Linked DNA regions of Homo sapiens: region 2 is linked to region 1. The links come from fine-mapping of genetic effects on gene expression. A gene starts in region 1. The other region holds a variant in brackets. All regions are shown on one strand. Distances are between the middles of the regions. Region 1 holds the start of PLEKHD1 (pleckstrin homology and coiled-coil domain containing D1). Region 2 overlaps PLEKHD1 (pleckstrin homology and coiled-coil domain containing D1).

Region 1 (14,441 bases):
ACCGGTTCGCGACCATGGGCCAGAGCTAACATTCTTTTCTGCTAACTCCGAATTTTTAGACAAAGTTTTGCCTCCTTTACCAAATGCAAATCAGAAAATCTTTGTGAATTCACCTGTGACCTGTGCCCCACCCGCCTTGAGATGTCCACCTTTTTAGGTCAAACCAACGTATAGCCTCCATTGTATTAATTTATGGCTTATGACTTTGCTTGTAACCTCTGCCTTTAGAAAGTCTTGCCTGTAAGCTGTTTGGGAGTTCTGGTCTGAAGTATAAACTGCCAGATTCTCCTTCCTTGGCACCCTGCAATAAATGCCTCACTTTCTCTGACTGCAATCCCCATGGCCGTGTTTGGCTTTGCTCCACCGGGTGTGCGGATGCAAATTCAGTTTAGTAACAAAGCCAGAAAAGAACATGCTATTGAACCTGGAAAAAAAATTCCAAGAAAGTATGATGCAGAGAGTTAGATGTCCTGGTCACCCCCTTCTTTTTTTAAAAAGAGATTGGAGATCTCGTTCTGTCATCCAGGCTGGAGTGTGGTGGTGTAATCACAGCTCAATGTGACCTCGAGTTCCTGGGCTCAGTTGATCCTCCCACCTCAGCCTCCCAACGCTCTGGGATTATAGGTATGAGCCACTGTTCCTGGTTAGCTCCCTTTTGATATATGAAGACAAGAGTGTTTTAAAGTAACTTGACCAAAGTCTTCTCATTGAGTAAAGATGGAGCTAACGCTGGTGACCAGCCTTTGGCTCCTAGTCCAGTGAACTGCTAATTCTGTTCTAGATGAGGGGCCAGCATCTTGGCTTTCCCTTAGATGTTCTGGGAGAGTGTGTGAGATCATAGCAATAAATGGCTATGGGCTTATTGGCCAGACTCAACATATCTGCCTCTTACCATTCCCAAAATATACTTGCTCTTAGAAGCCAAATTAATGTATATTCTAATTCATGCATCACCCACAAGAGGGAGCACTGAATACCTTCAGGGTGTCTGCTGAGTGTGCTGCCCACAGCGATGCCGGTGGGTACCAAGAGCTAATGTTAGTGCGGTAGAGTAGCTGGCAGGCTGACAGGGTGGCATGGTTTTCCAGCCACTCCCAAAAACGCTTCTGCATTGGCAACATTGGGTGTGAGTGATTACTGGGCAGTGAGAGGGTGGGGTGGGGTAGAAGCCTAGCAAGAGGCTGGCCCTGCTGATGAGAACACAGCCCATCTAGTCTAGTGCCAGGGAGCTCAAGTGGAGAGAGACTTTGAAGCGGGGGCCTGCTTATGTGGCTTCAGGCTGTGCTTCCCCGCAAGTGAGGCTTCCCACAGGGGCCCCGGGGGACCCTACTCCCCAGCGCACCCAGAGATGGGTCAACTAGTCTTCTGTGCCCACACACCCTTGTGGCTCTCCCTCCCCCATAGTCCTTTGGCCTACTGGCTTTGCACCTTCATGTGGTACCTTGTGCCCCACCTCAACTCTCTCCTGGGTTGCCCTGGGGGAAACCCAGTCCTGCGCAGGTAGAGGAGCCCAAGGCCCATCGTGGCCTTAGGAAATACAATCAAAATAGGAATATAATTCAACCAAGGGGAGGAGGAAGTGGCATCAGAAAAGGCATCACTGCCGGGTGGAATGGCTCACGCCTATAATCCCAGCGTTTTGGGGAGCCGAGGCAGGTGGATCACTTGAGGTCAGGAGTTCGAGACCAGCCTGGCCAACATGGCAAAATCCTGTCTCTACTAAAAATACAAAAATTAGCTGCATGTGGTGGTGTGTGCCTGTAATCCCAACTATTCCAGAGGCTGAGGCATGAGAATCCCCTGAACCCAGGAGGTGGAAGTTGCAGTGAGCCGAGATCGAGGCACTGCATTCCAGCCTGGGTGACAGAGTGAGACTCTGTCTCAAAAAAAAAAAAAAAAAAAAATGGCATCACTGCTGGGTGCAATGGATCATGCCTGTAATCCCAGCAACAGGAGGATCTTTCGAGCCCAGTAGTTCAACGCTAGCATGGCCAACATAGCAAGATCCCTAGGCCCTATTTCAAAAAAAAAAAAAAGTTTATTAGTTAGACGTTTTGGCATGTACCTGTAATCCCAGCTACTTGGGAGGCCGAGGAGAGAGGATTGCTTGAGCTCAGGAGTTCCAGGCTCAGTGAACTATGATGGCATCACTGCACTCTAGCCTGAGCAACCCTATCTCTTAAAATAATAATAATAATGTTTTAAAAGAAAACTAAAAGACATCACTAAAGAAGTCTTTGGGCTGAATGTTGAAGAGGGATTTTGGGAATAAGAGAAGCATTGTAGACTGAGGAGACAGCAAGTGAGAAGATGTGAAGAGCATGGGACCTTCCCAGGCTAGCAGAACCAGCGTGGCTGGAGCAGAGGGCCAGGGGAATGACTGTGAGTGAGCGCGGACAGGGGCCAGGGACTAGACTGTGAAGGGTATTTGTATTAGTCTGTTTTCACGCTGCTGATAAAGCCATACCTGAGACTGGGCAATTTACAAAAGAAAGAGGTTTATTGGACTTACAGTTCCATGCGGCTGGGGAAGCCTCACAATCATGGCGGAAGGTGAAAGGCATGTCTCATATGGCAGCAGACAAGAGAAGAGGGCTTGGGCGGGGAAACTCCCCTTTATTTTATTTATTTATTTATTTATTTATTTATTTAGAGACAATGTCTCCCTCTGGTGTCACCCAGGCTGGAGTGCAGTGGCACAGTCTCAGCTCACTGCAACCTCTGCCTCCCAGGTTCAAGCAATTCTCCCGCCTCAGCCTCCTAAGTAGCTAGGATTACAGGCATGTGCCACCACAGCCTGGCTAATTTTTGGATTTTTAGTAGAGATGGGGTTTCACCACATTGGTCAGGCTGGCCCTTTTTAAATCATCAGATCTGATGAGACTTATTCACTATCACGAGAACAGCACAGGAAAGACCCACCCCCATGATTCAACTACCTCCCACTGGCTTGCTCCTGCAACACATGGGAATTCAAGATGAGATTTGGGTGGAGACACAGCCAAACCATATCATTCTGCCCCTGGCCCCTCCCAAATCTCATGTACTCACATTTCAAAACCAAACATGCCTTCCCAACAGTCCCCCAGGTCTTAACTCATTTCCGCATTAACTCAGAAGTCCACAGTCCAAAATCTCATCTGAGACAAGGCAAGTCCCTTCCACTTATGAGCCTGTAAAATCAAAAGCAGGTTAGTTATTTCCTAGATACTATGGGGGTACAAGCATTGGGTAAATACAGCCATTCCAAATGGGAGAAATTGGCCAAAACAAAGTGGCTACAGGCCCCAGGCAAATCTGAAATCCAGCAGGGCAGTCAAATCTTAGAGCTCCAAAACGATCTCCTTTGACTCCATGTCTCGCATCCAGGTCACACTGATGCAAGAGGTAGGTTCCCATAGTCTTAGGCAGCTCCGCCCCTGTGGCTCTGCAGGGTACAGCCCCCCTCCTGGCTGCCTTCACTGGCTGGTGTTGAGTATCTGAAGCTTTTCCTGGTGCATGGTGCAAGCTGTCAGTGGATCTACCATTCTGGGGTCTGACCCTCTTCTCACAGCTCCACTAGGCAATGTCCCAGTAGGGACTCTATGTGGGGGTTCCTGCCCCACATTTCCCTTCTGCACTGCCCTAGCAGAAATTCTCCATGAGAACCCTGCCCCTGCAGCAAACTTCTGCCTGGGCATCCAGGTGTTTCCATACATCTGAAATGTAGGCAGAGGCTCCCAAACCTCAATTCTTGACTTCTCTGCACTTGCAGGCTCAACACCATGTGGAAGTTGCCAAGGCCTGAGGCTTGTGCCCTCTGAAGCCATGGCCCAAGCTCTACGTTGTCCCCTTTCAGCCCTGGCTGGAGTGGCTGGGATGCAGGGCACCAAGTCCCTAGGCTGCACACAGGAGACCCTGGGACCGGCCCATGAAACCACTTTTTCCTCCTAGGCCTCTGGGCTTGTGATGGGAGGGGCTGCTGTGAAGACCTCTGACATGCCCTGGAGACATTTTCCCCATTGTCTTGGGGATTAACATTTGGCTCCTCATTACTTATGCAAATCTCCATAGCTGGCTTGGATTTTCTTTTCTATCACATTATCAGGCTGCAAATTTTCTGAACTTTCATGTTCTGCTTCCTTTACAGAACTGAATGTCTTTAACAGCACCCAAGTCACCTCTTGAATGCTTTGCTACTTAGAGATTTCTTCCACCAGATACCCTAAATCTTCTCTCTCAAGTTCAAAGTTCCACAAATCTCTAGGGCAGGGGCAAAATGCTACCAGTTTCTTTATTAAAATATAACAAGAGTCACCTTTGCTCCAGTTCCCAACAAGTTCCTCATCTCCATCTGAGACCACCTCAGCCTGGACCTTATTGTTCATATCACTATCAGCATTTTTGCCAAAGCCATTCAACAAATTTCTAGGAACTTCCAAACTTTCCCACATTTTCCTGTCTTCTTCTGAGCCCTCCAAACCGTTCCAACCTCTGTCTGTTACCCAGTTCCAAAGTCACTTCCACATTTTTGGGTAACTTTTCAGCAGCACCCTACTCTACTGGTACAAACTTTTGAGTGCGGACAGGGCCAGGGACTAGACTGTGAAGGGTGTTTGTATTAGCCTGGTTTTACGTCGCTGATAAAGACATACCTGAGACTGGGCAATTTACAAAAGAAAGAGGTTTATTGGACTTACAGTTCCATGTGGCTGGGGAGACCTCACAATCATGGTAGAAGGTGAAAGGCATGTCTCACGTGGTGACAGATGAGAGAAGAGAGCTCGTGCAGGGAAACTCCCCTTTTTAAAACCATCAGATCTGGTGAGACTTATTCACTATCATGAGAACAGCACTGGAAAGACCTTCCTCCATGATTCAACTACCTCCCACTAGTACTCTCCCACAACACATGGGAATTCAATATAATATTTGGGTGGGGACACAGCCAAACCGTATCAGTGTTAGAGCCAAAGTCAGGAGGTAGGAGCTGGGGTCAAGGGAATGGGACCCAGCAGAGGGCTTTACACAAGAGACTTACAGGATCAGCTTGGGGCCTTGAAAAGAGCACGCATGATGGTGGGGAGCTGGATTATTTAGGGAGTCAGCTGTTGGTGGGAAGAGTCACCAGAAAATGGTATTGCACAGTCCTAGTGAGAAAGGTGAATATGAGCCAGGCATGGTGGTGTGGACCTGTGGTCCCAGCTACTCCGGAGGCCAGAGCAGGAGGATCGCTTGAGCCTAGGAGTTAGAGGCCAGCCTGGGCAACATAGGAAGACCCCATCTCTAAAAAAATAATAATAATAACAAAAAAAGTTGGACATGAAGCAAGTTGAGAGTGGAAGGAGGAGTTCCTTCAGAACACGAAAGCCCAGAGAAGCCCAGTGATTGTCTTTAGTTCATACAGCTGGTGGCAGAGCCTGGACTTAAACTTATGTTAACACTAGAAGCAGGTGACCAATCTGCCATCTAGAGATTGCTTTCACATACGTTCCCAACCCCCCCGCCACACACACAGACTATTTTATAGAGGAGGGGAAGTTGAGGACCTGATAGGTCAGTCTCCATTTGTTTGGCAAATTGAAACAGGAAATGGCAGCACCTGAACAGAGGCTAAGCGAGGACAAACCGATTCAGTAAGCATTTGCTGAGCACCCACCACATGCCCTGGACTATGTCTTCAAGGACCTCCAAGTTTGAAAGGGAAGAAAACACATACAGAAAAACTCCAAACAAGGCAGACAGACGTGTGTTAGAATGGGCGATGGACAAAGATCCACGGGAAGACAGAGGAGGGTATGGTTTCAGCTGAAATCGGTGCCACAGCCTTGTGCAATCTAGGGCAGGAGCCTGAATGGTGGAAGGAGGCTTGGAGGAGGGAAAGGGGTTCCATGGATGACACTTGGTGCTGCAGCAGGGCCTGGCCTGGAGCTCAGGTCTTTCTGCCTCTTCTGCTTCTTGGCCCCTCAGGGATACTTGGGCTGGGCCCAGCTGACAGACAGATGCCGGTGCTGAAGCCAGAGTCGCAGCATTCCTGGGTCCTTCACTTGGCACAAGCCTGGAAACAAGTAGACACGACGTGGCCTGCCTGAGGGTGGGGTCAGGGACAGAGGGGCAGGGAGCTGAGGAGTTGGCACTATGGGAAGAGCCACTTTTGTCCAGGTTGCTGGGAGCTTCTGTGGCTCATGGTAGTCCAATAACGATGACTCCAGGTGACCTCTGTCACCATTTTCTATTAGGCAATGTTTCCTGCCCATTCCTGGTTTTAGTGGGCTAAATAATACCCTTGTGTATAAGATTTTTTTTTTTCTTTTTTGAGACAGAGTCTTGCTCTTGTCTCCCAGGCTGGAGTGCAATGGCACAATCTTGGCTTACTGCAACCTCTGCCTCCCAGGCTCAAGCAAGTCACCTGCCTCAGCCTCCTGAATAGCTGGGATTACAGGCATGCGCCACTATGCCTGGCTAATTTCTGTATTTTCAGCAGAGATGGAGTTTCGCCATGTTGGCCAGGCTGGTCTCAAACTCCTGACCTGAAGTGATCCACCCATCTCGGCCTCCCAAAATGTTGGAATTACAGGCATGGGCCACCACGCGCAGCCTGAAATATAAGATTGAAGAGATGGATTCCCTACGGTATTCACACATTTCCTTACCATGGGCTAGTCACTTAAAATGGCCATGCTAATATTTGTTTTATGGAAAAGTGGGGACTATCACATCTGCCTGCAGACTACGGATAAAACAATATTATAAAAATGTATGTTCAAGCCTGGGCAAGATAGTGAGACCTCATCTCTTAAAATAAATAAATAAATAAAAAATAGCAGGATGTGGTGGCGTGCATCTGTAGTCCCAGCTACTCAGGAGGCTGAGATGGGAGGATCACCTGAGCTCAGGAGGTCGAGGCTGCAGTGAGCTATGATCACGCCACTGTACTCCAGCCTGGGTCAGAGTGATACCCTGTCTCTAACAACAACAACAAAAAAATATGTTCATTAGGAGTCTATCCCTGAGCACAGCTAAAATTCTGTAGCACTCGTAGAATTGCTTTGTCAGTTCTACAGGAAATTGAGCCCTAGGTGAGTTGGCAATTGAGAAAAATTCCTGAAAAGAGAGGAAAGACTGAAAGTGGTCTAGTATTTCCTAGACTGCACTTCACTTCACATGACAGTGTGCTGCAAGGTGAAGGGGAAGGGCTAAGGACTCAGGCCAAACTTCAGCTTGTCACTTTCCCTCATTCAACACATATTTAGGACCTATATCATGTTCTGGGAAATTACTAGCTATGTGACTTACGTAGACAACGCTTTTGAACTTTATTTTTCTCATCTGGAAAACTAAAAATAATATGTATGTACCTCATAGGTCTATAGTAAAAATTAAATGAAATGTGTCTGTTGTAAATAATGTATTAGAACATCAGCTCTGTGTCTGAGCAGTGTAGGGCACTTAGGGATCCTGAGTTTTCACCCCTGACTGGTCTCACTTACTTCCTGGCAAGATTGGGCGGCCCTGACCCACTTGGTCTAGCGCACAGGATTGGCACCTGGCTTGTTCTGTCTTCTGTAGAACTCAGCCAGGATTTCAGCACGCCTACCAGCTGAGGTAGAGAACACAATGGAAGCAGAAACAGCTTCTCCCAAGGCTGACCTGGTGCAGTCTGGGCTGGTTAGTCAAGGGGAACAGAAACCACTCAAGTATCTAGTGGTTGATCAAACTCCAGCTGTTTGCCTCAGAGCCTTCCTTTCACCCAGCCTTAACTGCTATTATCTGAGGTCTATTCATACGTCCTGTATGCAGAGGGAATAGGTAAAGATTGGTTGCTCTTTGTCATTGAAGAAACCTGTGCTTCACTTCTCTTATTGAAGGAATCAGCCTTCCCCAGGATTATCTGGGCTCACTGGGCCCTACCGTGCAGGACTTCTTTTGAATGATTGCAGGTATCCTGCCTTTCTCTGGCCCACATGGCTCACAAACTCACCACTAGTCCTCATCACCAGCAGCCATAAGCTGCAACTGACCTGACTCAGCAGAAAAGAAATGAATGTACTAAAAGGATATTGGGAGAGCCAGGGAGCCAGGCCTGAGGCAAAGCTTCCAGGAACCATATCTAAGAAGTGCTGCAGAAGCTGTTGGATGAGAATGCTGCAGCTGCCCCTGAGTTCTTGCTGCTGCTGTTTGTGCACTACTAGGAGCCCACCTCCCCATGACTGCTGTGGTACCCACCACACATGCTGCTGCCACCCCAGGAGCACACAGCTGTCACCCAAGGCACGTCAGATGCATGTGCCACCATGTTCCCTTGAAAAGTGCAAGCCTGTGTATGCTTTTTCCTCACATTTGTTACCTGCAACTCAAAGTCAGGGGCCCTTGACTGGTGAACTCCAGACCACAGGCTCCTAACACAAGTTTTCTAGCTTTCATCTTAGAAAAGCAGGACACCTGTAATCCCAGCATTTTGGGAGGCTGAGGTGGGAAGATCACTTGTGGCCAGGAATTCAAGACCAGCCTGGGCAACATAATGAGACCCCCATCTCTCTAAAAAAAAAAAAAGAAAGAAAGAAAAAAAGAAAGAAAGAAAAAAGAAAGAAAAGAAAAGCAGGGCTCCTAAAGTGGGAAGATTTCCAAGCATTAGACCATGTGTCAGAAATAGACAAAAAATATACAGAAAATGTCCACTTTGTACTCTGGCCCCGGGCTCTCATCATCTTCCCAGTCCCACCTCCTCCCACCTGATGGAGCCAAGCCCCGGGCCCTGTGTTAAGGCTTGGCCTGAGATGTTCTGCATGGGGGCCTGAGCCATGAGAGAAGTGCAAGGAATTCAGATGGGCACTTCTTGACAGTGAGCAACAAGGGGATGCTGTCTGAGCTTGGGAACCCCAGAGGGGGTTAAGGGAAGAGTACCAGGGTGATGATTAGCTAGAGTCATAAAATGGGGAGATCTAGCATGGCCTTGGGGAACATCTAGTGGGCGTCACACATCCAAATGCCTGCAGAGGGGCCAGGCAGGTCAGACAATAGGGGATGATGGGGCCTGTGGGGATGCGCCTTTAGGCATTACATTCAAAGACTTAAGTCTACTGTGCAGAGGTGGTAAGAATGATACAAGTGGTTGTTGTTGGGGGGCTGATTGACTATAAAGGGGCATGAAGAAACTTTCTGCAGGTGATGGAAATGTTCTGTCTGTTGCTTTGGGTGGGGTTACATCTTATATACCTTCATCAAAGAAATAACTTAGATGTGTGCATTTTACCATGAAGTATACCTCAATTTAAAAACTTGGGGCAAATTCATAAAGCAATGTGGATCTGGCTCTCGGGCTAACCATTTGTAAACTTCTGTTGCAATCCGACTTCCAGAGGCGTCCTTGGCTCCTCATCTTGGAAAAGCGCGACTGCGGCGTGGTCTGGCGGGCGGCCGCTCACTGCGCGGTCTCCACGCCTGGCAGGTGGCGCGGGGCAGGCAGCTGTGCCAGCCTAGCATTTCCACCTGCCGGGAGGAGGCGGTCCCCTGGGGCCCGGCCGGCATCTCCCTGGCCTGAAAATGAGCCGGTCACCCCAAACGCCAACTCCGAAAGGAGCGGAAGCGGATGGAACAGCTGGTCCCAGGGAGCGCGGGCCAGGCGCGCAGATAAATCACGGACACACACTGCACGGATAGCTCCAGACTGGCGTTGAGTGCCAAATGCCGACACAGACACGGTCAGGTTCCAGGAAGAGAAATCCGATCCGATGCGCGCTAGGCGGCGGCGGCGGAGCACAGTGAAACCCACCTGAGGGGGAAGGGTTGGGGGGAACCCAATCTTGATGGAGCCCCTCCCCATGCGGGCACTTTGGGCACTTCCTGAAGTCCTACCTGGCCACCCGCCTGCCCGGGGCATCAGGCATCGCCACTTCACTGGGGAGAAAAGCCAGACCGCCGCAGTTCACGGAGCGGTAGGAATTGCGGTGGAATTCCAGGCCGGAGTGTGTGACCCTACGCCCTAGCTCCGTCCTCTCCTCCACCCCGAGGCGAGCAGGTGTCTGCAGGAGTGCCTCCAACCCCATTGCAAAGCGGACGTGGCCCTCGTCTCGATGTCGGCGCTGCTCGCCGAGAGGGACCCCGGGGTGGTGTTGGGCGCGCGGGGCGGGGACGGGGACGCGCTGCGGCCAAGTCCCCGGGCCCTGCGACCCGCAGGGACCTTCTGGACGCACGGAGCCCGGCCCTCCAGCCGGCGCCCGCCCTGATTGGCGCCCGAGGCCGGCCTCCCGCCGGCTCACCTGCCACTCCCAGCCAATCGGGGCCACCAGAATTGGGGCTGTCGCCGGGGGGGTGGGTGGCTAGGGCGGGAGGGGAGGAGATGCTGCCGGCCCGAGGCTGAGCCACCCTCCCCGCGGAGTTCCCGCCCGGCCCTCTGCAATCCGGAGCCCAAGCCGCCGGCTACGCGCCCTGCGCCCCCTTGGTGCCGCGTCCAGTGCCCAGCGCGCTTTGATGCTGCAGCTCCGGGCCGGGCCGCTCTGCTTCTCTGCTCGCTGGGACGCTCTCCGACGGCTCCGCCCTCGCCTCTCGCCCCGAGTCCCTGCTGACCCCGGGGAGGTGGGGTCCGGGCCGGGCACAGCCCCGCTGAGGCAGGATGTTCACGTCCAAGTCCAACTCGGTGTCGCCCTCGCCGTCCCTGGAGCAGGCTGACTCGGACGCCCTGGATATCAGCACCAAAGTGCAGCTCTACGGCGTGCTGTGGAAGAGGCCTTTCGGCAGGCCGTCGGCCAAGTGGTCCCGGCGGTGAGTGCGCCCCCGCGCCCCAAGGAGACCGCCGGGGAGAGAGCCTGGGCGTCGTTACCCCTCCCACCCCCTCCAGTCGCCGTCGTGCCTCTGCTTTCCTGTGTGACCTTGGCGTCACCCCTTTTCACTCTACACTGGCTCCCGCAGGAAAATGTGGACCATAGTCTGGGCCGGGAGAATGGAGATGGGGCCCCTGCCCTGGGGCGGTGGCAAATTCTCTATGGAATGAACCTGACCCTCGAGTGGGAATGTTGGGTGTGGGCAGAAGAGACCGTGGTCGGGGTGGGATCCCAGCTAGGTCAGATCAGGCCAGACTGAGGGGAGGCAGAAACTCCATCTCTAGCCAAAGATGCCCCCAACCCCGGGACCCCCACTGTCAATTCCATCGTCTTCACAACCCCTGACCCAGGCCGCGAGGACCGGGCCTGAGTGTCTCCCTCCCGCCAACCACCCACCCTTAAGACGGAGAGGGACCTGGCCCTTCTGAAAGGCTCAGGCTAAGGAGGGAGGAAGGGCCAGGAAGGGTGCTTGTCCATGGGGAAGTGACCTTGGCAACCCCTCCAACTGTCCCTTGAAATAATTTTTTTAAAAGTGAGCACAGGGAAGAGAGATTCTAGTGCTTCAGACGGAGGAGCTGGAAAGGAGGGAGGCAGCTGGAGTGAAGGAGGGGATAGATTGGTTCTGCCAAGGATTGATCCTCTGAAAGGGGTGGTGGAGAGAGACAGGGTAGTCCCAACCATCCTTCAGCCCCAGCTGCCTGGTCCCCAACTCAGACGCGACTCCGCGGACATCGGTAGCCACTCTCCACTTACAAATTAGCCTGGGAGGTATTGAGGGAAGAGGGAGTTCACAGCCCTGGACTTGCAGGAAGCTCCCAACTGGCTGCAGGTGCTGTGGGCCATTTTCTGGACAGTTTCCACTCTCCAGTCAATTTCAGTTCTGAGATTCACTACTGGTATGGCCTGGAGAATGCAGACCCTGTCCAGCCCTTCCGCGGAGGTGTGACCCTTCCAGGAAACCAGGGGTATCCAGATGCCCCTTCCCCATCCCACACTCTATGAGTCTGCCCCTGAGCAGAGGGGGCCTCCAATGTTCCCAGGACCACAGATCATGTGGATGTGGTAGTGGTGGGTGCTGATGTTCTGTTCTGATGAATAATTTAATGTTTCTATAAGACCGCAGAACAAATGGAGCTGTGGACAGTAGCTCACATTTTATATCTCTGGTTTCATGTTGTTTTGTTGCTTCTGACAGGTTTCTCTCTGGGATTTAATGGGATACAGGCTTCTTGAGTTCCTCCAAAGTTCAGCTTATCTCTGACCCCCTAAATGAAGGCTTGGAGCAACATGGAGTGTATTTGGGGAGCTTCCAGTATTGTGCTATGTGAGCTACAGCCCCCAGGGCCAGGAGAGCTGGGGTGGAAAGGCTGTGTGTAGATTCAAGCACAATTAGCAGAATATCTCCCCCCACCACCCATCTTTCTTCTGCCTCAGCAGCTCCAGATAGTTAATCTTTCTTTTCTATTGGGTCTGGCTGCTGTTCTGGGTCCTGTCAACCAAGACTTCTCTTGCCAGACATTTTCACCTGACAGCATCCCTAGAAAATGCTAGGTGCTTGTGACCCCCAGGGTATGTCCCCTGGTCCTCCCCTTCACCACTGCAGGTACATTGGGAAACTGGTCTCTGCACCTACAGTTGATTCCAGGGCTAGGAAGTGTCAGGAGTACAGGGCATAGGCCCCCAGCTAAAAGCACAATGGTAGTGCCAAGGAGGCTTGGAGAGGTTTAGTGTCCCCCACCCAGAGACTCCATCTTCTCCTCCATCCACTACCGTGGCCCCCAAAGCCACCCGAAACGATGCAATCAGAGTCTGAGCAGTATGTATGCTCTGCTAATACAGCTAAAAGTCAAGTCCTTTAGCCTCCTTCCAAGGAGATTGTTACCTGGGTTCCCTTCCTTTGTAGGAATTTCAGAGCTGCCACTGTGCAAAGACTACCTGGGGCTCAAGAAAGAACTAACATCCCACCTGCCCATTCTAGGCCTCTGTGTTCTCAGTTCTGGGAATACACAACACACACACACACACACACACACACACACACACACACACACGCTATTTAGTCTTGGGTCAGTGACAGAGCCAGCCAGAGAGGGCCTGGGTGTGGGGGAGAAAGATGCTCAGCTCAGCCCCCTCTCACTTCCCATCAGGGCCCCCTGGGCCCCAGCTTCCCATTTGTAAAGTAGAGTCTGTGGGCTCAGCTAATTAGCAGCCACAGGAAGACTTGGGGACAGAGCAGCTGAGGGCCGCCACCGCAGAGCCTTGCCATTAGGGCGATCAATGCCCTGGCTGGAGCAGTTAAGGGGAGGGGGCCTGAAAAGTCTCAGCACTGCATTAGTAAAGAATAAGCTGGAGAGAACTGGCTGTGGCCAGCTGGGTTCTATAAAACCTTTTCCACTCAGGGTCTGTCTTAGGACCTGTGCCTCCAGCTTCCACCGCCCAAGCAGCCCTGCCTGCCTGGGGTGGGAAGGTGCCCTTGAGCTGAAGGGTCAACTTATTTCCTGGGGGCAACAAAAGGGGAAGGGAATCAAAAGCATTAATTAGCAGAGATCAGATAATCTGGGAGAGATGTCTAGAAGGGAAGGCTGTTGACTGTGTCCTCATCTTGGTCTGTGAGTGGAGATGGAAGTGCAAAGACCTGGGCAGTGCCAGGACAAAGAGGAAGGGGGTGGGAAATCTCAGCCTCAGCCAGTGTCATGCTGTGAGGGCTTGGCCTAGACTAATTCTTTCCTGAGATTGAATGCTTTTTCCAGCATTCTATTCCACCTCCCAAATCCCTGCTGAACACTTCCCAAGGCCGGAACCCCTAAGGAGGAGGACCCACCCACTTCCTTCCTGCAACAGGAGCATCTATAATCCTCCTCACCCCTTCTCCTCCCCAGGGGCAGGGTAGCCAGTAGGGCCTGAACCGAGCTCCGCAGTTTACTCTTGCAGAGCATCGGTGGGTCCCTGACTTAGGGAGCTAAGATTCATTGTGTCCACCTGGTGCCAGTGGAGCCATGGAGACAGTGGCCATGTGTCCTAAATCTCAGGCCACAACCTGTACAGTGTGTAAAGATTATCTGTGCAGATGAGGGTCACCATGCCAAAAAGACTAGAGGAGACTTTCTTCCCACAGGGATTTGGAGCCCAGGGTTTTGACTTTGGTGCTCAGCACTGCTTCCCAGAGGTGACACCAATGCCGAGCTTTCCCAGAGCAGAGAGAAGAGCCTATCATGTCAGCTTCACGGCACTAGGCTCAGCCTCACCCTGGTGACCCTGGGGTTTGGTCTCACTTTCTGGCACCCCTGGCATTTCCCTCAGCTGGCTGTGTGAGGTATCCCACAAGCAGAATTGTAACATTTCCTCTGTGGAGGGTGCCTGAAGGACCCCCTTTAAAAAATAAACTTCTATTCTTCAAACTTCTACCAGAGTGGCAACATAGGGTGTGGGGAACAGTGACCAGGTGGCAGTTGAGGGGCAGGGATCTTCTGCTAATGTGTGTGGGAAGTTGGGGAGGGGACAGAGCAGAGGAGCTCTTTCAGCATTGATAAAGAAGAAGGACTTGGGGAACAGTGTCTCTGCCTCCAGAAAAAAAAGTGACCAAATTACTTTATTCTGAAGATTTCATAGTGTTTTTCACTCTCTGGCTCCTTGTTCCAGAGC
Region 2 (13,896 bases), 47 kb after region 1:
CTCCTCCACTTTGGGGCCGGAGCAGAGGGAAGCTGAAGCCACCTGGAGTCATTGCTTCCCAGATACCTCAAGAAAAATAGAGTCCTTATTCTCTGACTTTTGGGTTGGGAATAGCTTTTCCTTGCCACTTCTAACAGACATCACTCCAGGGATCTCGAATGGAAATACACACTCACCACTCTTTCCTCCAGGTGTGAGGGACAGCCAACCCGCCTGATGGTGGCAGTGACTGGAGCTGCCCTGCAGAGTAGATATTTAGAATTATAGTTTCCTCCAGCCACAGGGAGTAATGTTGGGAGTGTTCCTAAACCCAGTCTTCAGCATGCAAAATGTGTTTTCAGTGGGCTCGATTCATCATAGATTTTGGGTTTGTCAGGACTACATATCAATGAGTGGGGCCAGCGGGCCTTAGAACTTAATTCCCGGTCTGGTGCAGCACATGACCCAGGCTGTGCTAAATCCCAGAGGGTCCCTTGGGATAGAGTGGGGGATCCTGATCTCAGGGTTCCTTTGCTGCCTGTGACTCTTCTCTTCCTCTCTGGTCTCTTCAGGAGCTTGAGCGCCTTAACCAGGTGCTGGAGGCCGAGAAGCAGCAGTTCGAGGAGGTGGTGCAGGAGCTGAGAATGGAGCAGGAGCAGATCAAGAGGTGGTGGTGGTGCCTGGGAATTGGGGGTGCCACTAAGTTAGGGCATGCAGAGCCCACCTTCCCCGTCAGATCTGAGGAGGCCTCCACCTCAGAGATGCTATCTTCCCAAGGCTCCAGGCTTGGGTCTATCCCAGTTTGAGTCTGTCCTCCAAGGCTCCAGGTTTGAGTGTTCCCAGAAGAATCTGTAGACTCCCCTGACCCAGATAAATGGGGTCATTTCTACCCACTAGAGCATAAGGCAATGGAGCATCCCTCCAAGCCACAAAGCCCCCTGCCTTCATGAAAGCCTCTCTCACCCAGGGCCAGACAGGACACGCTGGCCTAGAGGTGCTTGCTGTTGGCCAAGACCCTCAACATTTGCTGTCTTTCCTGCATAGTCCTTTTTGGGAATGTGTCATTTGAGAACTTTAGTACCATGTATTGTTTGTAAACCTAGTTGTACATTATAATCATCTACTGAATTATAATCTTTTAAAGGTAGAGCCTAGAAATCTCTCTCTATATATATACATGTATATATCTATATACATGTATATATGTATATATAAAAATGTTTGTTTGTTTGTTTGTTTTTGAGACAGAGTCTCACTCTGTCACCCAGGCTGGAGTGCAGTGGCACGATCTCGGCTCACTGCAGCCCCGCCTCCTGGGTTCAAGTGATTCTTGTGCCTCAGCCTCCTGAGGAGCTGGGATTACAGACATGTGCCACCATGCTTGGCTAATTTTTGTAATTTTAGCAGAGCCAGGGTTTTGCCATGTTGGCCAGACTGGTCGCCAACACCTGTCCTCAACGATCCTCCCACCTTGGCCTCCCAAAGTGTTGGGATTACAGGTGTGAGCCACCGCACCAGGGCTAGAAATCTATATATTTTTTAAAAACACCCCAGGTGATTCTGAGGCAGCCTCCAGGAATGTGGAGACTGCTGCTGTGGGTGGGGTAGTCATCATCGTCATCCTCATCCTCATCATTATCATCACCACACATGATCAGTGATAGCCCAGAAACTGTTTTCTTATAACAACCTTATCCAAGGGTGTCAATTAACTATGTATTTTGAGGAGGGAAAAACCCAGAGGATCTTACTAAGTAAATAGCCAAGCACCTACTCAGCTTCCAGAATGTTGCCAGGTATTAGAAGGAATAGAAGACAAGTCCACTCCCTTGAAGAGTGGACGTATGATCTGGTTGGGGAAACCAGACTCATACCCAGGAAACATTAGTGTAATAATATGTAATCAGGTGCTAGAAGGCATGGTGCAGATTTCCTGTGTTACGAGAATTGAGACACATGCATGATGCTTGTGGGCTTGAATACAGGGCTGAGTGAGATGGGCCTTGAAAGGTGAGTAGGATTTTGAAAATTGGGCAGGAGAAGGGAAAGACTTTCCAAGTAGGATGAGGGGACACTAGTGTAAAAGCCTAAGGTGACTGAAGCTTGTGAAGAAGGCAGCAAGGAGCTTGTTACTAACCCAAAGAGGGGCCTTAGCCATGTTCTATGTCAGAATGACCATGGGTTCTAGCAAGTGCTGTCCAGAGAAGACAGGGTGAGGCTGGGGCCCCTTTGTTTCTCCAGTGTTTCCCTCTGCCTGTGGGGTGGCCCTAGGTTTATTCCAGGTGACAGATGCATGTGTACCTGGAGCAAGTGACTCCAACCCCATGTGGCCAGGACTTACTTTCAACTCCAGGCCCCTACTGCTGCTGTCAGGGCCCAGCTGTGCAGAGGGGCTGGCCATTCAAGAGCCCTCCTGAGCCCCATCAGGAAGTGAAGCAAAAGCATTTCTAAGTGCAGAGGTGATTGGTGGGGGGTGGGGAGAGTGGGCACTGCCATACCCAGCCCTCTGTCTCCACAGGGAGCTGGAACTGACTGCAAGATGCCTTAAGGGTGTAGAACAAGAGAAAAAGGAACTGAGGCACCTCACGGAGTCCTTGCAGCAGACACTGGAGGTGAGGGGCTGCTGGTGGGTTAGTTGACCAGGTGGCAGGCTGGTTGGTTGGACCACATGACACTGTTTTTTCCAGCAGTGTTTCCCCAGGGGGTGATCTGTAAGAGAAATGGGCATGGAGGGGTGCTGATCTAAAGGGTCTCTTCTCTATGGATCATTGAAAACTCTGGCCGAGGCATGAGGCCCAAAGCAAGAAGTGTCTGTTCTCAGACCTAAAAGGACAAATTCAGGCTTGTCCTTGCTATTACCATGGCCTCAGGAAATCCACCTCTGGTGCTTACATTTTTATACCAGATAGAGGATTGGTTAAGGTGGGCAGTGGAGCTACCCACCGCTTCCTTCTTGTGTCTTGTTCGCTTAGCTGCTCCTGAGTGACATTGAACGTAAAGGGAAATCAACTGCCAGGTCACCATCATCTGATACCACAGAAACTGGGATGGGGTGGGGAGGTGACAAGCCTCAAGGACAAAGTACAAACTCCTTAGCATGGCAAGCAAGTGAAAACTCTGGCCCTGGTCTCCCCTTCCCTCTCGCCTCACTCTTCCCTTCACTGCTCCTCCATGCCCTGCACAGACTCCCAACCCCTGCTCCAAACCGCGGAGCTCAGGTACTCCAAGGAAGCAAGCTCTTTCATGCTCCATACCTTTTCCCACACTGTTCCTTCTACACAGTGTATCATTTCCACCTTTTCTCTGCTTGGAGAACTTCTATTCACCCTTCTAAGTCTCAGCTCAAATATCTCCTCAGTCAAGCTTCTCTGATTTTCAAGGCAGGTATCTACTCTGAGCTCTTGGCTCCCGTGGCATTTTGTACATATTTTATGGGACTTAACATGCTAGGTGTGTTTTCCAAACTATGAATTTCAGTAGACTGTGTCTTCATGGTCTCTCCAAGCCCATCCCCTGAAGTGGGCCTGGCACATATGGTGTATGGCCCATACCTGTGCTGTACGCATGAATTACCTTCAAGGCTGCAAAGGTTTCTTGTCTCCCTTGACTGACTGGAGCCTTGGAGCTTGTGGGGCCTTTATTCATTTATCTTTCCCTGTTTCACATCATGGGAGGTGGTTCCCATGGATATTTTCAACTCTGCTTCTGTGTAATGCCATTGAGTACAAGATCCCAGTCTGATAAATGGAGAGGACATCTTTTTTTTGGAGGTGGGGTGGGGGGTGGTTTGGGGACAGGTTCTAGCTGTGTTGCCAAGGCTGGGATGCAGTGGTGCAATCATAGCTCACTGCAGCCTCGCTCTGTTTGTGAGAGCATCTAAATATGCTCTTGGGCTGGTTCCTGTTGGGTGTTTTTCACGTAAGCCCACTATGTCTCCTCATTCACCCCTGGAGGAACCAGGACCCCAGAAGATCATG[C/T]GACCCCGTTCTAGTAGGTGCCGTCTCCACTGGAAGGCACTTTGGGTTCCTTTATGACTCTTGATGGAGGAGTAACCTTGCCCTGTTGTGGGAGAGATCTGGGCCTTTTAGCTCTGGAGAAGAATGAAGACATTTCAGCGGCCATAGAGGACTGAGAGAGGAGTGGGTCACTCCCCCAAACGGAAAAGCAGGTGAGGGCAGCCACGATGGAGAACCTAAATTGGGCTTTTCTTTTCCTTGCCTCCCTCCATGCCAGGAACTCTCCATAGAGAAGAAGAAAACCCTGGAAATGCTGGAGGAGAACGAGAACCACCTGCAGACACTGGCCAATCAGAGTGAGCAGCCCCCTCCCAGTGGGGGCCTCCATAGCAACCTCCGGCAGATCGAGGAGAAGATGCAGCAGCTCTTAGAGGAGAAGCTCCTGGCAGAGAAGCGGTGAGGGAGCCCCGACCCCTGAAGACACCATTGACTTTGGGGTCTGGGGACTTTCCTCGAACTGGACATCCAGACTCTTGGGTTCTACTTGGCACTGACCAAGTAGGACTCACTCACTTCCTTTTGCCTAGGACTCTGTTTTCCCACCAGGAAAGTGGGAAGAGAACTTTCACTACCCAAAGCTGGCTTGATAATTATCTTGTGCAATGGTGTGAACCATGCAGACTTATTAAGTCCTTGTCACCATGCTTTGTGACAGGCTGGGCAAGTTTTTAAGCCCCCTTTTACAAATGAGGAAATGGAGCCTCAGGGGGGTTGTATGACTTTTCTGAGGTCACAGAACAAGCAACCTCTGGACCCAGGACTCCAGTCTTCTGACTCTAAACCTAGGGCTCCCAGCACTGACCACACCATCAATCTCATCCCCTGGGTGCCTGGACCCACAAAGTTCAGGGGCTCATAAAGCCTGGGATTCAAGGTTTCTCCAGCCCAGGTCTCTAAGAGGAGCTGTCCATCCATTGGCAATCCCATTTGGCGAGTGAGCATTGAGAAAGTGCCTCTTCTGTCCCTACAGGATGAAGGAGAACGAGGAGCGCTCACGGGCCCTGGAGGAGGAGCGTGAGTTCTACTCCAGCCAGTCCCAGGCACTGCAGAACTCGCTGCAGGAGCTGACGGCAGAGAAGCAGCAGGCTGAGCGGGAGCTCAAGGTGCGACCTGGCCTGCTGGTGCCAGGGCCCTTCCCCTTCCCTGGAGACTCCCCTTCCACCCCTGCACTTTACCGGGTAGCTGCATGAATTATCTCTGTCAGTCTGACCAGACAGCCAGGCATGGGGGATGGAGCCACCACGAGGGGAAGCAGCAAGTCTGCTGCATCATTGACAGACACCTGCTGGGTGCAGGTGCCAAGTCCAGTCCATCTGGTTCAAAGGGTAAGACTCAGAAGCGGGATGTGATAACTCCCATCCACGCCCATTGAGCCAGGGGTGACCAAGGAAGGCTTCCAGGGAAGATGGCAGCTACTTCCAGGACCTGACTTCCTTCTCATTTCCCTCTCCTCAACCTCAGGCTGAGGTGAAGGTCCGCATGGACCTGGAGAGGCGTCTCCGGGAGGCAGAAGGGGCCTTGCGAAGCCTGGAACAGGGGCTGAATTCCAAGGTGCGGAATAAGGAGAAGGAGGAGAGGATGCGGGCTGATGTGAGCCATCTGAAAAGTAAGCCCTGCCTCTAGGCCCTGGCCCCCAGCTTTGGCACTCAGCCCCAGATGGGATCCCGGCCCTGTAGAGCCAGGAAACCCACACAGGGTCTGCTAGGCATGAGGTGCTCCCTGGATATTGAAGGGTTTCTTCTCCAGTTACCTGCCTGCAGGCATCTCAGCACCACTGCTTTCTTGTGGCTGTTGGATCTGTGGTGAGAGGAAAGCCAGGAGCTTCTTCCATTTATCAAAAGCTCAGAGCTCTGTTCTCAGCAGACGTGCCCTGAGATGGCTGCAGATTGTGGTTTGAAAGGCAAAGAAAGTCCCCTTCAGCAGGTGGCTCTGGAATCTCGAGGGACGGGGTCAAAATATTTCCCACTCAATCTCACCAGGATCCTTGGGAAGGGAGGGACTGGCTGGGGGTAAGGATGCAGTCGGAACCCCACCCTTCCTGGCCCTGCCGCCACAGGGTTCTTTGAGGAGTGCATCCGGAATGCCGAGCTGGAGGCCAAGATGCCTGTGATCATGAAGAACTCCGTGTACATCCATAAGGCAGCCACTCGCCGCATCAAGAGCTGCCGCTTCCACCGACGCCGGTCCAGCACCTCCTGGAATGACAGTGAGTGTGGCTGTCTGCGTGCCCTGGTGGGATGGTGACAAGGCAGGAAGAGGGCAACATGGGGAGCCAGAAGGGTTGGCCCAGCTCTGAGGCTGGAGAGTGTGGCCTTGAACCTGGCCCCACCATCCTTGGGCAAACGGGTGAATTCTCAGGGCCCTGGGTTTCTCAAAGGATATGGAAGCCCGTGTGTGTGGGAAGGGGCTGGAAGAAGCTTGGCACACATAAAGGAGTGAGGGGGTGGCATGAGGCTGGGGACAGGGCCAGGCCTTCGTGGAGGGAGCACTGTTCACAGGGCTGTTGGGCTCCTGTTTCCCCAGTGAAGCCGTCCCAGTCCTTCATGACCTCCCAGCTGGATGCCAACAACATGGAGGAGCTAAAGGAGGTGGCCAAGCGGCTCAGCAGGGACCAGCGCTTCCGGGAATCCATCTACCACATCATGGCCACCCAGCCTGGAGCCCCCTCGGCACTCTCCCGGGGTGGAAAGTGATGGGCGCTCCTCCCCTGCTTCCCAAGTCTCCCCTGGATGGGCGGGGGAGGGGAAGGGGTGGCAGAGGGAGGCCTCACTCTACCAGCTCCTGGCCTCTCTGGTCTGGAGCCTATGTCTCCTCTGGGCCGGAGCTCCACTTGGGGGCCAGCCTTGCCCTCAAAGGACATGGACGCTGCCTTCCTCATCCTCACCCCACACCCCACCTTTGGGTCCACACCAGGGCCATGCAGGCCTGAGCTGGGTGCTGGTTGTCATGGTGAGGTGAGGACAGGACCTGGTTGTATGTGGAGATTTGTGTCGGTTAGGGAGTGGGGTGGGGAGGTGCTGTCTACCACTGTGCCATCAGGCAGGGTCTGCCCCACTGAGGAAGATGGCAGCCCTCCCTGGTGCCCACTGGACCTCTCTGGGACTCTGCTGCCCTGCCCGTGGTCCTCATGTAGAAAGGCCTTGCCTCCCTACCTTGACATTCCCTTTTCCCCAGGGTTTCCTAACCCTCCCTTTGCTTCTGACACTCAGCAAAATGTCCCTCAGCTGAGACCCCTCATTTACACCACATCATGCTGTGCAGGAGGAAAGGGGCCTAGGACAGCAGCTTCTGGGCTCCTGACATACCACACACCCGCCACAGTGCCGCTTTTCCTGAGCTCAGGCCCTGGCTGTGGGGCCACCCACTGATTCCCCTCCTCCTCTGGTGAGCTCACTCACAGCCTTGGCACCCTGCAAGGGTAGAATGATGGCACCAGTCCCTCCTGCCTGTGTACCTAGGGCCCTGGCTGGGAGCTGGGGCCAGCAGTGATGCTGGGGGCTCCCCCAGAGGACACGTAACAAGCTCAGGAGTGGGCTGGGCACAGTGGCTCATGCCTGTAATCCCAGCACTTTGAGAGGCCGAGGCGGGAGGATTACTTGAAGTCAGGAGTTTGAGACCAGCCTGGCCAATACGGCAAAACCCTGTCTCTACAAAAAATAAAAAAAATAAAATAAATAGCTGGGCATGGTGGTGCATGCCTGTAGTCCCAGCTACTTGGGAGACTGAAATGAGGGGATTGATTGAGCCTGGGAGGTTGAGGCTGCAGTGAGCTGAGATTGTGCCACTGCACTCCAGCCAGGGTAACAGAGCAAGACCCTGTCTCAAACAAACACAAGGAAAACAAGCTCAGGAGTGAAGGAAAGTCACTCTGGTTCCTGCATTATGTACTTCTGGTTGCGCAGGGAGGCAGTGTTCCTGCTGGTCGAGAGATCACAGATATCTCCTTCCCAGCTGCCCCTGCTTCAGTCACCTTGCTGCCTCCTCTCCCTGCAGAGATTTCAGCCTGTGAAGCAATGTGACCATGAACTCTGGCAGCTGGGGACCCTGGGCCTGTGATGAGGCCAGTAGTCATTGGTTGGCTCAGTGTCATTGGGAGTGAAGCTGAAACGCCAATCTGCAGCTTCTGTGGAAGACCACCACCCTCCAGGGGGCTGAAGGGTGTGTCTGTCTCTCACTCATGGACAGACAGACTGCCCAGACCCTCTCCCTGCAGGCCCACCCTCCAAAGCTACCTGAGGCTATTGGCCTCCAGAAAAGGGGTCCACCTGGGATCAGGGTGCTCTTGGACACTGTTGACATTAAAGGTGCTCATTCTTTGCTGCTTGGAAAACCAAGAAGTTCTGAGAGATAAACAGATGGCTTCGGGGCAAGTCCCAGCAAAAAGTGCAAGAACCTGGGAGCCCACAACCTATTCTGTGGGAAGAGGAGCATTGTTGCCTCTAAGAACACATGCACATCTGCTGCTAGGCTGGCCGAGCCCAGGCCGGGCTGCCCTGCTCTTTGCTCAGTGCTTCCTGCCAAAACTAATCTCAGTGGTTCCTTTCAGTGATGGGTGGACTTTGGTGGCTTCATACAGTCTCTGCAGAATCTAGCTGGGGAGAGGGCTGAGTCAGTTTGGAATAAATGCATTTGACAGGGCTGAGCCTAAATGTAAAACTTTAAACGTGTATAACATGCATAAACCTGGAACTTGTTTCTCTAACACGTATGAAGGATGAACTTTGAATTGAAGGGGAATATTTATAAAACCAAGATTACTGTTTCCTTTTTTTTAAAAGAATTAATCATGGCTTGCTTTTAGAGAGATCTTTCATAATTTTCAGATGCATTTGTTTTTCTTGGGCGAGCTATTAACCAGACAGGAAAGTGCTAGTCTTCGTTTGCTTTGTACTGCTGTAACAGAATACCTGAGACTGGGTAATTTATAAGGAACAGAAATGTACTGGCTCACAGATATGGTGGCTAAGACGTCCAATATCAAGGTGCTGGCATCTGGCAAGGACCTTCTTGTTGCATCATCCCATGGTTGACAGGCAAAGAGAGGGTGAGAGAGCAAGAGGGGCCAAACTTATTCTTTTATAACAAACCCACCCCCTCGATAATGACATTAATCCTTTCATAAGGGAGAGTCTTCATGGCCAAATCACCTCTTAAATGTTCCACCTCTTGCGGATCACCTGAGGTCAGGAGTTTGAGACCAGCCTGGCCAATATGGCGAAACCCCACCTGTACTAAAAATACAAAAATTAGCTGGGCGTGGTGGTGGGTGCCTATAGTCCCAGCTACTCAGGAGGCTGAGACAGGAGAATCACTTGAACCTGGGAGGTGGAGGTTGCAGTGAGCCGAGATTGTGCTATTGTACTCCAGCCTGGGCAACATGAGTGAAACTCTGTCTCAGAAAAAAAAAAAAGGTCCCACCTCTTAATATTGTTACAATGGCAATCAAATTTCTTTTTTTAATCCTGCAAACTACTGGGATAGTAATTAAATTTCAGTGTGAGTTTGGGAGGGAACAAACATTCAAACTGTAGCAGTGCTTTTCCATGCACATTTACCAATCGATACTTCCTCCTATTCTCACCCTGTATTTTCCATGCCTCAGGCAAGTCTGAATTATCTTCAGCCAACTGAACAATCCATAAGTGTTTATTCGTTAAAAGCTCACTATGTACCTAGCACTGTAAATAGAAAAATAGCAACATCTCTATATCAAAATACGTAGGAGTGGAAATTACTTAGTGGAGATATGTTGATGTAATTTTTTTAATTTTTAAAAACAAAACTCTTATTCCTTGGCCAATTAAATGCATTTCCTGCAGTATCTATTTAAGTATGTGGTGTGGTCATTGCTAGAGAGATGTTGCTACCTGCAGGCCAAATGTAGAATTATGGAATCTGCTTGTCCTGTCTCTAATACGTACTCCTGCACATGCTTCTCTACATTTGAGGAAGTGCTCCCCACTGCTGCACCTCCTAATAATTAATTGAAAAATCTGTGTTCCAGCCCTGAGGTCCTGGCTGTCCCTGTGTAACAAGGACTATCAGCTAGATTTTCTTCTGATTTTAGCACAGACTAAAGGAACAGGACTGACTGTGCCAGTGAGAATAGCCTCAGGGAGACAAAGGATACCTAGGTTTTTTGTTTAGTGAGGTTTTCCTGTTTGTTTGGTTTTCCTGTTTGTTTTTGTTTTTAAGAGACAGAGTCTCACTCTGTTGCCCAGGCTGGGGTGCAGTGGTGTGATCATGGCTCACTATAACCTCAGACTCCTGGGCTCAAGTGATCCTCCCACCTCAGCCTCCTGAGTAGCTGGGACTACAGACACGTACCATGATGCCCAGCCAGGATACCTAGCTTTATGGCCTGCTAGTTTCAGTATCCCTGCTGGAAACTGACAGTTTTACCTGCTCTGATGTGGGGAAGTGTATGCTTTTGTTTAGTAATCATATAAAGGAGAGCCAGAAATGAGTGAGAAATGGTGATGACTGGATTCTCCTCCTGTTTGGTTTGTGTGCTTTTCCACCAATGATGTTAATGGATGAAGCAAGAGATCGTGAAACACTTGGGTTCTGACCCATTCCCCAGCTCCCAGTCCTTGCAAGAATGCTCTCCCTCTATTCATCTGGAAGGATGTAATTCTTGCCCCCAACCCACTCCAAGCCCACCCAGCTCAGCATAGTCTCAGCAGCCTGTTTGGAGTCCACAATGAATGATGATAGTGGAACAAAACTTGCTCAAGTCTCAGGGAGCCAGTCCAGGTGTGTCAGATTTTATCCAATAGGAAGATAAATAAATCCACTGGGCAAAATAGTCCTGAAGCCCTCAGATAAAGTCCAGCAGTCCCTGTGGAACTGTGTGCTTCTGCAATCAGCCATGTTGACACTTCTCAGACCCCCAGGCCTTGCAAGGTCTCTCCAAAGTCAGAAACTCTGCAGCTTTGACTCTTGGAGAAAAAGCTGCTGACTTCTCTTATCTCACCCCACCCCTGGCAAACAGGAGTTGAGGGATGTCTTTTGCAAGGCTTTAGGAGAGATTACAATGGTTGTTTTTACCTCCTGAAAGAGAGCCACTCCCAGACACACAAAGCAACTGGGAGAAACTGGTTATTCAAACTTCCGAGTGGGTGTGGAATGTTGTGGTGTCAACATCCCCAGGTTCAGTTCTCCTGGCTCGGCACATCCCATCTCCCATTCCCTTCCCTGGACGTGGGCTTCCACCCATGGCTTACAGCTCTTCTGACCCAGAAATGAACTTCACTCCATCTTACTGGGTTAAAGGTGTTCATGGGAAATATAGGAAATACTCTAAGTCCAGGAGTCCTGGGGGGTGGGGACCTTAATAACCAAATCCCTTGTGGTGAACTTTACCTGTCACTGTCAACTCTGAGTATGCCTCTGGCTGAGACTTGACAGTTGGGCAGGGAAGTTGGGGTGAGTCAGAGTTGCTCACAAGGGCTCAACAGCAGGGGCTCCAGGAGACATCCAGGCAGTTTCAGAGCCAGCTGCATTTGGGGGCTCATGCTCTCTTTGCACTCCACCACCCTTCCCCTGGAGGATCTGACACCTGCCTCTGGGCTGAGAGTCCCATTGTGAACAGACTCAGCCTCCCCTTGTAATCCTGGCAAAAGCTGTGGTTGGTGGGCCTTGGAGTGTCCACAAAGAGAGCCTTCCCCCTTGCAGAGCAGTGACTCCAGTGGCAAGACGAGACCTAGGGGAAGAAGTTGTTGTGCACTGTCTGCTGCTGTGGGTGCGGGGGAAGGCTCTGCTTTGCCACTTGCTGGCTCCTGTGGCTTTTGAAAAGTCACTATTTAAAATGTTTACTGTATTTATGCATTTTTAGTAAGCAGGAGAGAAATCCCTTCAATCTTACAGGCTGCTCAGAGCCTTTGTGGTTCTGAAGTTCTATGATTGGGACTTTGCATCCCTGAAATCAACAGAAAATTGGCTGCCACTGCTACAAGTGATCAAGAACATACAGGATGTCAGGTTCTGGCTCAGGTAGCACTCAATGCCATGCCATCCTTAGAACTGTCTATGAAAATATATGTTTGCTTTGAGATGAGAATAGGAAAGATAACTAATTTATCACCTCAAGGAAAAGGTAACTGTGACTAATCATAGTTGCTTGGAAGGCTTTTCTGGTAAAGAAAAGATGCCTATTGTCATGTTCACCCTGTATCTGAGACCATCAGTCAGCATCACTTCTTTCCATCTCTGAGAAACAGGGTTTGCTCTGTCACCCAGGCTGGAGTGCACTAGTATAATCATAACTCACTGTAGCCTCCTGGGCTTGAGCAATCCTCCTGCCTCAGCCTCCTAAGTTGTAGGATTACCAGTGTGAGCCACCATGCCACTTCTTTCCATCTTCGTTCAACACGTATTTATTGTGATTCTATTGCATGAAGTCAAGTGTCTACCACGTGCTTATCTCTTTCACTTACTGGCTCTTAAATTGTGGTGAAATACACACAACTTAACATTTACCATTTTAACTATTAATATTTCTAAGTGTACAGAGGCTGAGCACAGTGGCTCACACCTGTAATCCCATCACTTTGGGAGGCTGAGGTGGGTGGATCACTTGAGGCCAGGAGTTTGAGACCAGCCTGGGCAACATGGTGAAACTCCATCTCTACTAAAAATACAAAAGTTAGCCGAGCGTGGTGGCGCCCACCTGTAATCCCAGTTACTTGGGAGGCTGAGGCACAGGAATCACTTGAACCCAGGAGGCGGGGGTTGCAATGAGCCGAGATTGTGCCACTGTATTCCAGCCTGGGCAACAGAATGAGACTCCATCTCAAAATACATACATATATATATATATATATATACACATACACACACATGTATATATTTCTTCTTTTTTTTTTTTTTTTTGAGACGGAGCCTTGCTCTGTCGCCCAGGCTGGAGTACAGTGGCACGAACTCGGCTCACTGCAAGCTCCGCCTCCCGGGTTCACGCGTCTCCTGTCTCAGCCTCCTGAGTAACTGGGACTACAGGCACCTGCCACAACGCCTGGCTAATTTTTGTATTTCTTTAGAAGAGACGGGGTTTCACCATGTTAGTCAGGATGGTCTCGATCTCCTGACCTCGTGATCCGCCCACTTCGGCCTCCCCAAGTGCTGGGATTACAGGCGTGAGCCACCGTGCCCGGCCACACATGTATATATTTATAAGTGTAATATAATATATGCCAGTAGTGTTAAATATGTTCACATTTTGTGCAACCACTCTCCAGAACTTTTTCATCTTGTAAAACTCAAACTCTGTATCTATTAGACACTCCCCATTCTCCTAACCCCCAGCCCCTGGCAATCACCATTCTACTTTCTGTCTCTATGATTTTTGACTACTGTATATACCTTATATAAGTGGAATTATACAGCATTGGTCTTTTTCTGTGCCTGGCTTGTTTCACTTACGATAACGTCCTCAAGATTCATCCATGTTGTAGCGTATGTCAGAATCTCCTTCCTTTTTAAAGTTGGATAATGTCCTATCAGTTTTCAGGAGAAAACCTGATTGAAATCTCATTCTTCTGACAAATTGTTGGCCAATGGGGAGGGCCCTGGATGTCTTAAAGGACAAGAGAGTCACAGCCAAAGGAAACTGGATCCCTACCCTTTCCTTTTCCAGGTTTCTCCCTCCCCACTGTGGCCTGGTGTTAGGGATGCTTTGGTGTTCACGTCTATCTTCTTCCCAGCAGATGGCAGCATGCTCCGAGCTGGCTTGCAAATTCCAATGGGAAAGTGAGCTGAGCCTCTGGGAGACGGCGGGGGTGGAGGGGTTTTGGTGACAATCTGCTGCAGTTTTGCACTATTGGTGTTGAGTCTCACCCTTGTTCTCCCCTTTAAGGTATGAAACAAAGGACTCTGCTTTGTCCATCACTTACTGAGTCCATTA

The links. PIP is the estimated chance that this variant, and not a neighbour inherited with it, causes the effect. A credible set is the group of variants that fine-mapping cannot tell apart.
Region 2: its variant is the best candidate, but not a certain one, in a credible set for the expression of PLEKHD1 in lung (TOPMed, PIP 0.71).

What each region holds. Positions count from the first base shown.
Region 1 is chr14:69,474,375-69,488,815 of GRCh38, forward strand. It overlaps PLEKHD1 (pleckstrin homology and coiled-coil domain containing D1), which reads left to right and starts at 10,354. Exons shown (of 13, transcript NM_001161498.2): 1 at 10,354-10,740. The coding sequence starts at 10,592.
Region 2 is chr14:69,521,732-69,535,627 of GRCh38, forward strand. PLEKHD1 (pleckstrin homology and coiled-coil domain containing D1) reads left to right here. Exons shown (of 13, transcript NM_001161498.2): 7 at 552-646; 8 at 2,498-2,591; 9 at 4,213-4,391; 10 at 4,966-5,098; 11 at 5,457-5,601; 12 at 6,052-6,201; 13 at 6,519-9,820. The coding sequence ends at 6,688. Among named protein-coding and RNA genes, the nearest start is that of PLEKHD1, 44 kb to the left of the region's middle. RefSeq lists an enhancer at 7,884-8,053. The variant C/T (reference allele first, on the strand shown) is at 3,957.